Linked DNA regions of Homo sapiens: region 1 is linked to region 2. A link means that fine-mapping ties the variant in region 2 to the plasma level of a protein whose gene starts in the linked region. Region 2 holds a variant in brackets. A gene starts in the other region. All regions are shown on their reverse strands.

The links. PIP is the chance, under the fine-mapping model, that this variant and not a neighbour inherited with it causes the effect. Protein levels are from antibody-based Olink assays in UK Biobank. Linkage for the fine-mapping came from a reference panel and not from the study's own genotypes, which makes the PIPs less certain.
Region 1: it holds the start of CKB, and the variant in region 2 is fine-mapped to the plasma level of the CKB protein (UK Biobank, PIP above 0.99).

What each region holds. Positions count from the first base shown.
Region 1 is chr14:103,521,555-103,524,456 of GRCh38, reverse strand. It overlaps CKB (creatine kinase B), which reads left to right and starts at 1,627. Exons shown (of 8, transcript NM_001823.5): 1 at 1,627-1,691; 2 at 1,952-2,156; 3 at 2,280-2,434; 4 at 2,507-2,639. The coding sequence starts at 1,964. RefSeq lists an enhancer at 500-1,385 and a silencer at 2,749-2,798.
Region 2 is chr2:216,614,086-216,616,987 of GRCh38, reverse strand. No RefSeq gene overlaps it. Among named protein-coding and RNA genes, the nearest start is that of LINC01280, 8.6 kb to the right of the region's middle. RefSeq lists a silencer at 1,488-1,782. The variant C/T (reference allele first, on the strand shown) is at 1,287.

The DNA of each region.
Region 1 (2,902 bases), not on the chromosome of region 2:
ATGAGACAGGAGAAAAGGCCCCCACACCGATGCTCACATAGGCAGAGGCGAACAGGCTTCCCCTGCCTTTGGGCCTTGGCTCTGGTGCCTTCTGCTCTGAGGCACCTATTCGGGGTCCCTTATACCTGGAACGCCACTGCTCTGTGTCCCCCTGGCCCCAGCAGCACCGATCTGATGTCATCTGGTTTGTTGGGCTGCTGGCTCATGGCCAGTCTTCTTCCAGCAGCAGGCGCTGTGTACCTCGCTGCCTGCTGTATCCCCAGCGGCTGGCACCTGTTAGGTGCTCATTGTGCCACTGCTGGAGGGATTTGTATCAAATATACCCACAGATAAGAGTTCCCCCCTTCTTTGCTTTATTCACAGAGCAACAGATGAGGGTCCCTGATGGATATTAACCCCACATCCTCCACTTCCCCCTCTTAACAGCTGCATAATATTCCACAGCAAGCAGATGCCTCCCTACCCTTGGCCACTCCCGCCTGATGGGGCATCGGGTTGTATCCAGTTATGTTTGTTTTTCCCTCCACAGATCTCTTGGTCCATTAGTGGAGAGAACTGAGACATCCTTTCTAAGGGCTGCATTCCTAGAAGGGGAGATTGCTGGGTCACGGAGTTCGAACATTGTTAACGTTAATAGATTCTGCCAAATTATCTTGCAAAAAGCATGCAGCAATTTAAGTTGCAGGCAGCGTGTGGACGCCTGTCTTCCCGCATTCCAGCTCAAAGCCAGCAATGGCTGGGGTCGATCTGGGAGTGTTGGGGGTAGGGGCAGGTGGAGTCACTGCTTAATTTGCATGATTCTGGTTATTCGTGAGATCAGTTTTTTTTTTTAATCGCACTTATGCTTATTGTTTATTAGCGTTTCCTCCCATCTTTGCCTGAAGTCTCCGGGGACTGCCTTTGGGGGTCGGGTAAACTTGTCCCCTGCGAAGAGGGCCCAGGGTTGGGGTCTGGAAACTCCGAGGCTGCACTTGCCAGCGGCCTCTTAAGGCCACAGCGTCCCCGTGGTTTCTGGCTCGCAGCCCCCCGAGACCCAGGACTTGTCCAAGGTCAGGGCACCGCGGGTGCCCCCGGGCTGGGCCGCAGCCAGACTGCGCTTCCCGCGCGCCTTCGCTTTGCACCAGGATCGCCCAGGAAACGCCTGCGGGCACCTTGAGGAAGGTCGGCGGCTCCGGGCCAGCTCGCACTGGCCGGGGGTGGGGCGGGGGCCGTACCTGCTGCGGAAGCCCCGAAAGCTTTCGCCCGGCCCCTCGCCGCCGCCGCGGGGGCTGGCTGGACTAGGCGGGCAGGCTCGAGGATGCGGATGAACCCAAGCGTCCTCGAGTGCCCGGAGGCTCTCCGCCTCAGTTTCCCGCCCAGAGGCAAGGGCGTGCGAGGGGATCCAGATATCCAAGGACCTGAGGTTTCGGCCTCGAGGTCTTGGGCGGGGGACTGGGCAGGCTGCGCGGGGTCCCAGCGAGGGGACAGCTCGGGTGGGCGGCCAGGGTGTTGGGGGCTGCGGGCGGCGGACAAAGCGGCGGCACCACCCCGCGGCGCGGGCCAATGGAATGAATGGGCTATAAATAGCCGCCAATGGGCGGCCCGCGTTGTGCCCCTTAAGAGCCGCGGGAGCGCGGAGCGGCCGCTGTTCGCCTGCGTCGCTCCGGGAGCTGCCGACGGACGGAGCGCCCCCGCCCCCGCCCGGCCGCCCGGTGAGTGGGCCCGGGGGCCGGGGGCGTCCGCGCCCGGGCTAGGGGCGCTGCGTGCAAAGGGGGCGCGTCGCCTGGAGCGCGCGCCGGACCGGCCGGGGGTCCCCGGCGATGATGGCGCTCCCCGCGCGCGCTGCGGACCCCGCTGACCTTGGCCGCGTCCCGGGGGGCGCCGGGGGGCCCGGCGGCGGGGGCCTGAGTGGTACGCGGGAGCCCGGGAACCCCGGCGTGCCGGTCCCCTCTGACCCCGCGTCTCCCCGCAGCCCGCCGCCGCCATGCCCTTCTCCAACAGCCACAACGCACTGAAGCTGCGCTTCCCGGCCGAGGACGAGTTCCCCGACCTGAGCGCCCACAACAACCACATGGCCAAGGTGCTGACCCCCGAGCTGTACGCGGAGCTGCGCGCCAAGAGCACGCCGAGCGGCTTCACGCTGGACGACGTCATCCAGACAGGCGTGGACAACCCGGGTACGCGACCCCTCGGGGCCGGGGTCCCGGCCCCCCCTCCCCCCGCGCAGCCGCAGGGTCCTCAGCAGCGCGCTCGGGCCCGGCAGTGACGTCACTGTCCCCGTCCCGCGCCCCCTCCCCCAGGCCACCCGTACATCATGACCGTGGGCTGCGTGGCGGGCGACGAGGAGTCCTACGAAGTGTTCAAGGATCTCTTCGACCCCATCATCGAGGACCGGCACGGCGGCTACAAGCCCAGCGATGAGCACAAGACCGACCTCAACCCCGACAACCTGCAGGTGCGGGGCTGCGGGCGGGCCGGGCGGGCGGGGCCGGGGTCTTCGGGCGCTCACTCCCGTCTCGCCTCCCAGGGCGGCGACGACCTGGACCCCAACTACGTGCTGAGCTCGCGGGTGCGCACGGGCCGCAGCATCCGTGGCTTCTGCCTCCCCCCGCACTGCAGCCGCGGGGAGCGCCGCGCCATCGAGAAGCTCGCGGTGGAAGGTAGGGGCCGGGCGGGCCGAGGGGCGGCGGCGGCCGCGTCCCCCTCCCGGCGCGGTCCCCGCCCGCTTTTGTTTACGTCGCCCGGGAGCGGCAGCCGCCGTCGCGCTCTTATCTGCGCGCGCCCGGGTTCAGTTTCCCGGAGGGACCGAGGGACGGAGGCCCAGCCCCGCGCCCACAGCGGCCTGGGGCCCAGGGAGGGCGGGTCCTGGCGCGGGGTCACCGCCTGGGACCGTCGCCCGGGCCGTGAGGACTGGACGCCCGCA
Region 2 (2,902 bases):
AGCAGAGTCCAAGGTGACTCTGCTATAATATAATAATAATCAGTGGCCAAGGGACTCTAAGGCAGGGGTGTCCAATCTTTTGGCTTCCCTGGGCCACATTGGAAGAAGAATTGTCTTTAGCCACACATAAAATACACTAACACTAATGATAGCTGGTGAACTAAAAAAAAAAAAATTGCAAACAAATATCATAACGTTTTAAGAAAATTTACGAATTTATGTTGGACTGCATTCAAAGTCATCCTGGGCCGCAGGTTGGACAAGCTTGCTCTTGCTGTAAGGTATCATTGTCTGGGGGTTGGGCAGAAGGGAGGTTTTAGAGGGTCACAATGAAACCTCTACCACAATTGCACTAGACACACACACACACACCTACACACCCACCCACACACACAGGAACACACACTGCATGGCTAGGGTGCAGCATTGGGCATCTTGCCGATACTTTCAAAACTGTGCCTTCTGCCCAAGAGCCAGAATGCAGAATCAATAATTATTTCTATCCACATCTTTACAAAATAGTAAACAACCCTGAGGCTTAGCCAATCAATGACCTCAGTTCCTGCTCTTTGTCCAGAATCCTGCTCTCTGGACTTTCACTGTGTAAGGGGCATTTGAGTTGTAACCCAGAAGAACTCAGAGCTCGAAACAACCAGAACAAGCACAGCACACTTTAGAGGCACTTACTGGGGAGTCCTTATCCCAGCTCTGCCAGATAACCTACAATGTGACCTGTTTTGCAAGTCATCAAACTGTTAGGAGCCTCAGTTTTTGCATCTGCAAAATGGAGTAAGAACACCTAGTTCATGAGGCTTTTGTAAGGATTGTGTGGAATCGTTCTTGGAGGTTTCTGGGAGGATGTCTGACCCAAAGAAGGGATTCAGGTCAATGTTTGCCAAACCTGGAGTCGGATCTTTGCTGTGGACATTTGCCTCTTGGAGCAATCTCTTGACTTTGAGAACTCTGATCCACGATATGGGATGCCCTGTGTTCTTTAAGACCACCTGATGGCACCCTGAGTCTGGTCTCTCCTTCCCTGGGCATAGCAGTTCCAAGGGGACCTACCACGTGAGAGCATCACCCTTGCATGGAGACCTTCACCTTGCATTGTGCCATCTGTCACTGCCTGCCCATCCGACTTGATCCTGGCTGTCTGGAACAAGACCTTCTCTCTGGGGAAAATATTATTGTTTTTTTTGGCCACTTGTTTGATCCTCCAGAGTCAATATTTGCAGCGATAAGCACAGTGTGATGTAGCCAGTGGAGTTGTTTATAACTCTGCCCCT[C/T]TCCTATTGGGTTCTGGTTCCTTCTGGGCCACACTGTGAGGTGAGTGGGTGTGCATTTCAACAGCAGTGGGTCCTGGTACTCACCAAAACTGCTTTGGAAGAATATGGAAGAGGAGCTGGAGTCTGTTTGCTCCTGTCTCCTGAAGGTGTGCCCTCAGCCTACGCTGAATGCTAAGCAGGAATTTATGTGACCTTCCCAGGAAGCTGGCCTAGACGCCTTTCCCTCCTAAGCCTTTCTTGTAACACAAACCTCAGGGCTGCCCCAGTCTTCTCTACTAGATAGTGAGATCCCAGAGGAGTCTTTCTATAAAAATAAGATTTTCTGTTTCCACTTCACATAAAAATGCCTAGGGAGGTTTTCCACCCAGTTTGGAGGGCTTATTTCAAATGATTTGACTTAAAATACAGGCTATGAGGAGTGGGCAAAACTCCCTTTGAAGTGGCCCATAGGAGAGTACCCCAAGGGCTGGAGGGGTGGCCATTCTCTGGAGAGTGTGACTACTCGGGATACCATGAGAGGCCACAGTGACATCTGATTAGGAGAGACAGGCTGCACATATTAATCCATGGAGGACAGAGGCGACAAACATGGTTTCAACTGTGAGCTCCAAACCAAAAGTGATGAGGCCATGCATTCAACAATCGTAATTGAGCTGCTTCTCATATGGGCAACTCTATATGCCTCTAAGAGAGTAGAAGCAAGGATGGATATTTTTTCTTTTCTCTCTTTTTTGTTTTTTTGAGACAGAGTCTCACTCTGTCACCCAGGCTGGAGTGCAGTGGGGCGATCTCGGCTCACTGCAAGCTCCGCCTCCCAGGTTCACGCCATTCTCCTGCCTCAGCCTCCCGAGTAGTTGGGACTACAGGCGTGCAGCACCACGCCCGGCTAATTTTTTTTTGTATTTTTAGTAGAGACGGGATTTCACTGTGTTAGCCAGGATGGTCTTGATCTCCTGACTTCCTGATCCGCCCACCTCGACCTCCCAAAGTGCTGGGATTACAGGCGTGAGCCACCGCACCTGGCCAAGGGTGGATTTTTTAAACCATGGGTAATGGTTTTCTGGAGAAATACAGGCAGCCTGGCTAGCTAGTAATAATAATAATAATAATAATAGTAATAGCAACAACAAGAGAGGAAGTGGAGGAGGAATAGGAAGGAGGAGAAAGAAGAAGGAGGAACGGAACAGTGGCATGGCTGGGTAGTCCACTATGTGCCAGCCCCTTAGCAAAGTGATATCCAAAAGTGATCTCATTTAATCTTCAAAAAACCCCTACAAATCAGCTCTTATCATCTCCACTTTTCAGGTGAGGAAAGTGATGCTCTGAGAAGTTAAAGCTACTTGCCCAAGGTCATGCAGCTTACCAAAAGCAGATACTGATACGGTTTAGCTGTGTCCCCATTCAAATCTCAACTTCAATTGTATCTCCCAGAATTCCCACGTGTTGTGGGAGGAACTCAGGGGGAGGTAATTGAATCATAGGCCTCATCTTTCCCCTGCTATTCTCGTGATAGTGAATAAGTCTCACGAAATCTGAGGGGTTTATCAGGGGTTTCCGCTTTTGCGTCTTCCTCATTGTCTCTTGCTGCCGCCATGTTAGAAGTACCTTTTGCCCCA